Regions from separate parts of the Homo sapiens genome. Here region 2 is linked to region 1. The links come from fine-mapping of genetic effects on gene expression. Tissue or cell type: whole blood. Region 1 holds a variant in brackets; the other region holds the start of a gene. All regions are shown on one strand. Distances are from middle to middle.

Region 1 (5,344 bases):
AGGTTTAGTATTTATAAAGAAATATTACCTCTACTCCCGGAAAACTAAAATCTGGATATTGCTAGCAAAAACATGTATGAGGTGAAGAATTCTCATTTCAAAAACAACTGCCTTCTAAACAAGGGCAATTTCTATAGAATATTCTTTAAATAGGGAGATTCCTGTAGGTGGGTAGTTAAAATATAATCATGTTTTCAAAAACTCACTTTACCTACATTCTTTCATCCACTATATAAAGTGAAGTATACCTGTACCTGTATTTCAGGAGAACCATTAACCTCCCTTCAAGTGATACATTCTGGTCAAGTTACATGAAACCTTAAATACTTTCAGTTAAGCTGGTTTGAGCACAATCATCTATAAACTTTAAGTATAAATAAATAGTCTCAGATAGAAACATAGGAAGTGGAATCAACAGGACCTGGTGACTAAGTGAAGGTTGGAGGTACAGAAAAGAGAGTCCAGGCTGGGCATGGTGGCTCACACCTGTAGTCCCAGCACTTTAGGAGGCTGAGGCAGGCAGATCACTTGAGGTTAGCGGTTCAAGACCAGCCTAGCCAACCCCGTCTTTACTAAAAATACGAAAATTAGCCAGGCATGGTGGCGCATGCCTGTGTGGTCCCAGCTACTTGGGAGGGTGAGGCACAAGAATCGCTTGAACCCGGGAGGCGGAGGTTGCAGTGAGCCGAGATCGTGCCACTGGGCGACAGAGCGAGACTCCACCTCAAAATAAAAAAAAAAAAAGAGTCCCAGTTTAGGGGATAAAGGATTCCCAGTTGAGGGCACAAACGATGAGCAATTCCCAGTTTAGGGCATAAATGATAAGCAAGATAAGAGTGCAGATGAGGGACCGGAGGGAGGAGAGGCAGGGGGGAGAGGAAGCTAAGTTCAGACCACAGTGGACTTGAGCAACGTCTACGTCTATCCGGAGTTGCTCTGCAAGCATGGTGGTGGTGGTGACGGTGATGGTGTCGCAGTGTGAAGGACAAGAGCGATGAGCGCGGGATAGGTGTGGGGAGCCAGCAGCAAACAGATGGGAGCTGATGCAGCTGTGGCAATGGAGGAAATCACCCAAAGGATGGAAAAAAGGGGAGAGGTCTGAGGTTGGAACCTAGGAAGGGGGACCGAGTTGGATGGAAAGGCATGCCATGTAAGAGCCGGGGAGGGAGATGACAGCGATGGGAGGAGGAGGCAAGATCCAGCTGGGAGAGGCACTGCAGAAAGGACGTGCCTGGATGTGCTGACAGGGTCCAGAAGACGCCAACCAAGGTAGCCGAGCAGAGGATGGAAGCACCAGGCTGCCAAGGAGACCGCATCTGAGGCCAAGAGCCCAGAGAGAAGCATGCTCTGTGGCTCCTGGGGCAAGAAACAGGAACCACTGACTGGGGAGGGAAGCTGCAAATGCCTGGAAGACATACACAAGATACTCATCTTTGCTTGACCCAGGACAGGGGGCTACCCTGACTGTGGGGGGAAATGGGTGTCACTAACTTCCATAAGCTTTAACGCCTTGAAATTGTCTTAAGATGATTTAAAAAATGGTTCATGCACCCATATTATGTATGTGCCTCACTGCAGGAGCTCTCTGGAGATGGGGTATCAGAGATGACACAGGGACAAAGCCGCAGCCTGGGAAGAGTTCTGGGCAGAGCCCGTTGTCTCCCACAGCAGAGAAACGTGTGGGGGCTGCTTCTTGGAGCTCCCCCAGACTGGCAGGAACAAGGAGAGAGTCTTCTTCCCATGCCATTTCATGTATGTGGTAACTTTCATTCAGAAGTTACCACAAAATTCTTCCACATTTAAACTGGAGTCTCAAATTGAAGTTTGGGGCTCTTCTTTTGACCTTTCCTCAGTGGCCTCAGGCACATCAGCTGGTCACCGCCCTAGGAGGACCACACTCAGCATGGAAATGCTGGGTGGCATATCAGCATGTCAACCTTTTTCATGGAAACACAGCTCAGGTTCTCATTGCATTCTCTAGTTGAAAGGCTTTCCAAGTGAATTGACAGTTAGCTAAGATCCAAAACATGCTGGAAGAATATTTCAAAATGTCAACGTCTCAAATAATTTTCACATATCAAGGGGCAAGGTATTCTCCTAAACCCAAGGAGAACACAGACAATGAAACATTCGCTCTGGCAGACCCTGCTGTGATGCTGGATGTTTCCAGAACTGCAAAAGCTTCACTGTTGCAGCATTACTCTGCGTCAACTTAGGACCCAGATATTTTTCCCAGTCATACTTATATTTATTTGACATTTTCTCTTTGTGTCATTCTGGTTTGCTCCCAAGCCCTATAAAACCTGTTCTATTTACAAATATATCCTAAGTTTATCAAGCTGAGTTTATATCACTATTTCTTCTGTAACTTTTATATTCTCCAAAATATTTTCTAT[C/T]AGTCTATTATGGACTGAATTGTGTGCCCCAAAACTCATATGTTGAATTTTGTTGAACAAATGTGTTGAACCCCAAATGTGACTATTTTTGGAGATGGGGCCTGTAAAGAGGTAACTACAGTTAAATGAGGTAATATGGGTGGGAACCTAATCCAACAGGACTGGTGTCCTTACAGGAAGAGGAAGAGACACCAGAAATGTGGGTGCACAGAGAAAAGTCCACGTGAGAACACAATAAGAAGGCAGGTGTCTGTAAGCCAAGGAGACAGGCCTCAGGAGAAATGAGACCTGCCAACACCTTGATCTTGGACTTCTAGCCTCCAGAAGAACTGTGAGAAATACACTTCTGTTGTTGAAACCGCCCAGTCTGTGATATTCTGTCATGGCAGCCCAAGCAAACTAATACAGAGTCCTCACCCACTAAATAAATTCCAGGTAGGATTACATTCCCTTCTTGCAATTTAATGGAAGATGAATTTTAGCCTGAAGTAAAACACATCCTTTGAACAAATCAGCTGTTTAAGTGTAGATGACATTAACAACATGCTGTGAAAAATAACTTTTTTTTGAGACAGAGTTTCCCTCTTGTTACCAGGCTGGAGTGCAATGGCGCCATCTCGGTTCACTGCAATGCCTCCTGGGTTCAAGTAATTCTCCTGCCTCAGCCTCCGGAGTAGCTGGGACTACAGGCACGTGCCACCACGCCTGGCTAATTTTTTGTATTTTTAGTAGACGGGTTTCACCGTGTTAGCCAGGATGGTCTCGATCTCCTGACCTCGTGATCTACCTGCCTCGGCCTCCCAAAGTGTTGGGATTACAGGCGTGAGCCACTGCGCCTAGCAACTTTTGTTTTTACAAAGGTTCCATTAAACTCAGCAACCCTCAGACTAGGATGAGACATTATACACTTTTTAGTGTGGTTCAGAGTAAAGAATATGTTACCTTTAAAGTATTCTTGCCAAAATTGTTTACTCCAACTCTAGTCTAGACTTAACTTCCAGTTTATAGGAAATACAAGGGCCGGAAGGAAAATGATACTATAAGTAAACACAATCAGACAAATCTAGAGTGTGGGGACAGCGTGTAAGGTGGCCACACTGACCTCATGAAAAAGTCAATTTAAAAAACGGGAAACTGTTCTAGACTAAAAGACTGTAGAGACAGAACAACCAACTGCTGTACATGAATTAAACTGGATCCTGGTTCCAAAAAACCAAAAAAGACTATGAAATACATTCCTGTAACAATTAGGGAAATAAAAAGGTAGCCTAGATACCAGATAATGTCATTGCTAATTTCTTAGGGGTGCCTGTGCAGGTGAAAGGCTTTATTCTCAGGAAACACATGTTGAAATATATAAGGGTGATGTGCCACGATGTCTACCACTTACTTTCAAAAACAAGAACTACAAAAAAGTGGGGAGTGGTGAGGAAAAAGTGCAAATATGGCAAAATGTTTCAGGAAGGTTTATTTTCTCAACTTTTCTGTACATTTGAACATATTCATAATAGAAAGTTGGCAAAACAGCGCACAATACAGGCACATGCCACTATGCCCAGCTAATTTTTCTATTTTTAGTACAGACGGGGTTTCACCATGTTGGCCAGGATGGTCTCAATCTCCTGACCTCATGATCCACCCGCCTTGGCCTCCCAAAGTGCTGGGATTACAGGCGTGAGCCACCGTGCCCAGCCATGCACTGCTTATATTTTTTAAAGTTGACAGGAAGTAGCCTAAAATCCCACTATAATCCAATATAGCTCAAGATGTGAGGAAGAGGTTTACTCCTGGAAGCTATTTTAACTCACATTAAAGGCAGAAAGTTCTCAGGGAAGCAGGAAGAGACTCATCCGGCTTCCTGCAGCTCTACCTTCATGTCCACCGTTCAGAGCCCCTGAGCTGCAGGGGTGCGCTTTCCACATCCAACTCCTGACATTACAGACATCAGGCTGGCCCACAACCTGTCTATGGACTCTTTTTTCATTGATAAAATCAAACCAAGCAAGAGATGTGAATGAGTGGTAGAGACAGGAGGAGGAGTATTCCTGCTCTATGTCTCAGTTCAAACAAGACTGAGTGCCTGATACACATGTTCTCTGTGGTAAATTTTTCCCAGGGTCCTTATTGCTTCAGTGACCTGCAAATCCTTTTTTTTTTTTTTTTAATTTTTTTTTTTTTCAGAGATGGGGTCCTGCTATGTTGCCTAGGCTGGTCTCGAGAACTCCTGGGCTCAAGTGAGCCTCCCACCTCAGCCTCCTGACTAGCTGAGACAACAGGCACCCTGCTGCAACCATTTTATTTAAAGGCAGTGGGGGCGCTTTCCTAGAACAAAATCCCACCTGTTAGTAAAAGCAGTCATCAGGACAGAGGCTGCGGCCACGTACCCAATTGCTTGCCACATCAGCTCTTTCCTCACGCCAAGGTCTACAGACTCAAGGCCAGGCACGTCAGCATGGCCTCCATGCTTCCCATGGCCATTGTCCTACCGACTCCTCCAGCCCCAGGAGTCCCCCTTCACGTTCCACGGCAGCAGGAAACCACTCCCTGTGGTACGTGCACACCATGGTGTCAATACCCTGGAACTCTGCTTGGGCTGCCTGGAACAACGTACCCCAGATTCGACTTGGGAGTCACAGCCAGCCCTTCCTGGGAAGTCCTCCTCCACACGTTGCCAAGCCACGGCAGCAGATTCTGTGTAAGGAGAGGTCTGTCTCCTCAACAGGTCCAATTGTACCTCAAAGGCAAGAGCTGCGTCTCTCTCACTGCTGTATCCCCAGTGGGTCCCCTGCCTGTCCTACATGTGCACAGTCTGCTGGGGACACTGGCTGGCACAACTCATCAGAGGACCATGAGATGAGCCTCACAGATGGCTCATGGGTTCCATCACTCTAGGCGAGGGAAGAATGTGAAGCCAAGACATCCACTCCTGGATTTTTAAGGGCTTTCAC
Region 2 (5,000 bases), 130 kb before region 1:
GGGCCGAATGAGAGTCAGAGGTCATAAGGCCAGGGTCTGCAGGGGGACGGTCCCCTACACACCGTAAGCAGAGTGGTGGAGCTGCCCCTGCTCCTCCAAGCGGCTCTGTTCTCTCCCATTCTTTCCCTGGACTTCTCTTCTTTCTCACCTTTCTCACCTCTGGGCTCTCAGGCACACCAGACAAGGACAGAGAACACTCAGTCACCTAAGTCCAGGACGCACTTCGGATTTTCAGGCTTGTTTTTTAGGAGGATTTTATCTGCTACCAAACTCTTCTCAGTTTCCAGGTAGGTGCCTGGAATGCTGGCCGATGGTGGTGGGCTGATTTCCAGATACCCTCATCCCCCTCCGTCTTCCCTAACCCTCTTAGTGCTCCACAGAGCCTGAGGCACAAAGCGCTTACAGCTGCAGGGGGAGGCCTCAAACTCGCACAAAATTCAAGCTGCGTTTTGCTTGTCCTCCTCGGGACCTTTCCTTGGTCAACTGCTTTCTTTGGTCTAGTTCCCTGTCCTGTAACAGCGCAGGACCCTGGCAGAAGACCCAGATCCCTGTCCTGGCCAAGGCCCTCACCACCTCACGTCCCCGGCCTCTCTCCTACTGAAAAAGCACACCCAGCCCACCTATGCAGCTCCAAGGGGCAGCGCGTGAGAGAACTCCTGTAACACGCAGCTGTCACTCTGCTACAAGGCCACAGTTCCACAAGACACCGTTCCAAGCAGTATTATTTACATAGGCCGCACAAGAATCTTGCCCTCTGGAGTTGTGCAGAGGCAATACTGCTAACCTACCTCCACTTGGCTTTTAAAATCTTTAAAACATCCACATAGGTCTGATATTTGATGCCATTCCAGTTTCCCAAGAGGTGCTAAAGCAACATACCAAAGTCAGAAACTTCTAAGGAAGCAGAAGGAAAAACAGATCTCTCTGTCACAGGCACTTGCGCTGAGGCAACAGGCCTGGGTGTCACTTCTCTGACCACGTCCACAGCCAGAGAAATCAGCAAAGATCCAAAGCAAAACCCTTCTGCCTCAAAAACCGCATATAAGCCAAGAAGCGCGCCCAGGCCCCTCGGAGGCTGCCTTCAGTGCAGGGAGCCGGCCCTGGAAGCCTCCTGCGCCAGGCGCGGCTGCACATATGGGCCACTCCTTCTCCCGGACTTTCTGCAACTCCACGCGGCGCTAACCCTCTGGTTAACTCCGTCTCCTTCTTTTCCAGATGCGCCCAGGGGGACACCTAGGCGACTGCTGGGTCAAAAGCAAGCTTTAGGGATGGCGTCCACGAGACCCCAAACAGGTTTTTCCTCATTAAAAACCCTGGACTTCAAAGAGGTAAAGAAAAAAAAAAAAGCCCAAAGTCAGCAGATCGTAAAACGCATAAAACTCATATAACTCGACACCCCGAGTCCAAAGGGGCTGTTGCGGCAGGCTCCCCGGTGCCCACGTCACCAATCGCCTCTGAGAGCCTCGCACCCGGCGCTGGGCGAGACCGCAGGGCAGCGCGGGGCGCTCTCGATACCGAGGGGACGACGGGGCGGGGCCTTTCCGGCAGGAGAGGCTGCCCGGGAGGCGGCGGGACTCCGTGCGGGCGGCCACCCTACGCCGGGGAAGGGCCGCAGCGCCCCCGGTTCTCTCGGCCCCCCGGTGAGCGCTGTGGCTCGCAGCCCCGTCCCGGAACCCCGACCGCATCCCGGTCTCTAACCGCGGCCGGGCGGGCAGGCAGGAGGGAGCCCCGGCCCCGGTCTACTCTCGCCCCGCGCAAACACCTCCGCCTGACCCGCCCGCGAAGCCCCCTTCAGCGCCCTTTTCCCTGCCCCCAGTTCCACGTGGGCGCCAGGGACCCTGCGGCACGGCGCCGGGAGCCAGGGATCCCCAACTTTCGGCCGGAGTGTCCGGAGAGCCAGCCAGCCCGCCCGCTCGGCCGGGGACTCACGGCTCCATCTCGGCGCCCAGAGCCCTCGGCCCCGGCCCGCGCGTCCCGAGCCCGCCAGGCGCCGCGCAGCAGCCTCGGCAGCGGCAGCCGCAGCCGGAGCCGGAGCGACAGCGGCTGAGCAGCGGCCGGCCGCGGAAAACTCATCAGAGCGCGACGCCGAGATCACGTGCGCGGAAGCGACTCTCACGGCGGAAGAGGGCGCGGCGCGGTGGAAGCGGGGCCGCGGGCGCGCGGCGAGGGGGGTGGCCCTCCTTCGTGGCCCCGTGCCGGGGCGGAGCCCCACGGCCGGGAGCACCCAGGCTAGCCCTGAGCTGGGGCTCAAGACAGAAGGAATGAGTGAATGAATGACTTAGTTTACCTCTTGTCCCTAGGGCAGGTAAACAGCGCATTCATTCACTCCTACTTCCCGAGTGTCGGGGCGTAAGGATGGGCCTCGGGAGTCCACGAATGCCCTGCAGTTGTCTGGAAAACACTATGGGTGTCTGCATTTTTCTAGGGAGAGGAGCTATAGCTGTATATTCATTCCCTAAGGGTCTTGTGACCCCAAAAAAGGTTAAAAGCCAGGACAAACTTCTGCCACCCCGAATGATGACAGGAACCTTCCGGGCTCTTTCTGGTAGCTTCTCCCGCAAGCCGCTTCTAGACTGCAGCTAGACCAGTGGACCAAAAGCACTTTCCTGATTTCGCATCTTGGCTCAGTGTTCCCCATTTCTGTAATCAAGAATGGATGAGAACCAAGGTTTGGCTATTTCTGAGATTCTCTTTGGAGCATTACTCAAAATGTCCCGTGTTCCCGTGTGCTGTGGGTTTAAAGTCGGTCTGCATGAGTTAAATAAAGGACTTCCAAGCTTCCTTTGCAATGTATCCTCATTCATTCACTAAACTGTAAACAGGCTTACTATTGGCAGAAAAGTGTGGACATGAATAAGGAACAGTTCCTGCCCTCAGTGAAATTACAGGCAAAGAAAATTACCAACAGTAAGTTAGGTAGCCTTAGCTCAGGGTGCTACAGTGAGGAAGGGTGCCTAACTCGCCTTGGGGGAGTGGAGAAGGTAGGGGACAGAATGCAGAGTTTGGGCTGAATCTGGAGGGTGAGGTGGATATTAGGAAGAGGGGGGTTAAAAGGGGGAGATACCAAGCAAAGCACACCCTAAGCCAGGACACCAAGGAATAGTTACACAAAATCTCATTAGTGCTCTGAATCCTAAACCGCAACTCTTCAAGGAATAACAAAAGATTATTTCTTAAGTTCTTTTCATACATAAGCAGAGGGAAAGGGTTCTTCATAGCAACAAGACCGGAGAACAGAAACTGGGTACCTGCAGGGACAGACTGTTCACAGGGACGTGGGGCGCGGGAAGGGGTGAGTCGGAGGGAGTTCTATGAGCTAGAGCAGGGGTCCCCAACCCCGGAGCCTGTTAAATTACAGACGTGAGCCACCGCAACCAGCCCAAACATGCGTTTTCATGCAACACCTTCTGTTAAATGTTTAGGCCTGAGGATGCCTCCCTACTTGAGTCCTTACATAAGGAGCTGCAGCCTGGCATAGTTAACATAAAAGAGAAGACACCCTAATTGAGGAGGATGCTTTTGTAACAAACAGCTGAGTCTCAGCCAATCACAGCCAGTGAGCTTCTGTCATTGGCAGGTGGTTAGCTGATTCAAATAAGCTAGAACATAAACCTGTAACCAGTTAAGCTGTCTCTGCGCCTCAGTTCCACTTTCTGTCCATAAATGTTGTCTAACCACGTTGCAGCCCCAAAGTCCTTTGAACCTGTTGGTTCTGAGGGCTGCCCGATTCTAGAATCATGAAGAAAAGCTACTTAGGATCTTTAAATTTGCTGTCATTTTGTCTTTCGACACTTCTGATTCTAAAATGTTGGAAACTAATTCGAAAAAATATCTTAAACCCTGGGAGGGACTAAACAAAGCACATTTGCTGGCCACATTTGCCTAGAGGCAGCCAGTATCTACCTCCAGCCCAGAGCAGCATGAGATGATGTGGAAATCCCTGCTCTGTGCCAGCTGCCTGGTCTCTCCTGAGGCATCTCCAGCGAGAGGAAACTGTCACCACCCCGAGGACCCCTGGCCCTCACTGTGTGCATTTGACTCCAAACTACCTCCTGGCAATTCCTTCCTGTCAGATCTCCCTGGATTTGCTGTCCAGCGTCACCCAGGTCAGCATGAGCCCTCTCCCAACACTCCTTCAAGGATGTGAACAACCACATGGCCCTCAGCTCCTCTTCTCCCGTCATACTCGTTTTCTCATTTATTTGTTCTTCAAACATTAATGGAGCAGTGTGTGTGTGCCAGGAACAACTCTCAGCTCTGGAAACACAACACGAATAGACAGATGAGGTCCCTGTCCTTTTCTAGTCAAGAACAAACAATAACCTAAATAATTACTTAATTGACCGGGCATGGGCATGGTGGCTCACGCCTATAATCCCAGCACTTTGGGAAGGTGAGGCGGGGATCACCTGAGCTCAGGAGTTCAAGACCATCTTGGCCAATATGGCGAAATCCATCTCTACTAAAAATACAAAAATTAGCTGGGCGTGATGGCGGGTGCCTGTAATCCCAGGTACTTGGGAGGCTGAAGCAGGAGAATTGCTTAAACCCAGGGGGTGGAGCTTGCAGTGAGCCAAGATCACGCCACTGCACTCCAGCCTGAGCAACAGAGCAAGACTCTGTCTCAAATAAATAAATAAATAAATAAATAAATAATTACAGCTGTGATAGAAAAGGAAATGAAAGGTGCTATGATCATGTTATGAAAAGGGGAAAGGGACCCAAACTATTCTGGGCTCTAAGAAGCCTGGTGTGATCTATCAGCCATTTCTCACATGACCTGTTTGTTTTTGAGACAGAGTCTCCCTGTCACCCAGGCTAGAATGCAGTGGCGCAATCTCGGCTCACTGCAGCCTCTGCCTCCCACTCAAAAGATCCTCCGGCCTCAGTCTCCCATGTAGCTGAGACTACAGGTGTGCACTAACACAACCAGCTAATTTTGTATTTTTTGTAGAGACAAGGTTTCACTATGTTGTCCAGGCTGGTCTTGAACTCCTGGG

What was found. PIP is the estimated chance that this variant, and not a neighbour inherited with it, causes the effect.
Region 2: it holds the start of TMEM181, and the variant in region 1 is fine-mapped to the expression of TMEM181 in whole blood (TOPMed, PIP above 0.99).

Annotation. Positions count from the first base shown.
Region 1 is chr6:158,431,327-158,436,670 of GRCh38, reverse strand. All of the region lies in intron 3 of TULP4 (TUB like protein 4), which reads right to left. Among named protein-coding and RNA genes, the nearest start is that of SNORA116, 110 kb to the right of the region's middle. The variant C/T (reference allele first, on the strand shown) is at 2,397.
Region 2 is chr6:158,557,162-158,562,161 of GRCh38, reverse strand. TMEM181 (transmembrane protein 181) reads right to left here and starts at 2,071. Exons shown (of 17, transcript NM_001376852.1): 1 at 1,930-2,071. The coding sequence starts at 1,937. RefSeq lists enhancers at 40-539, 540-1,041 and a silencer at 1,461-2,380.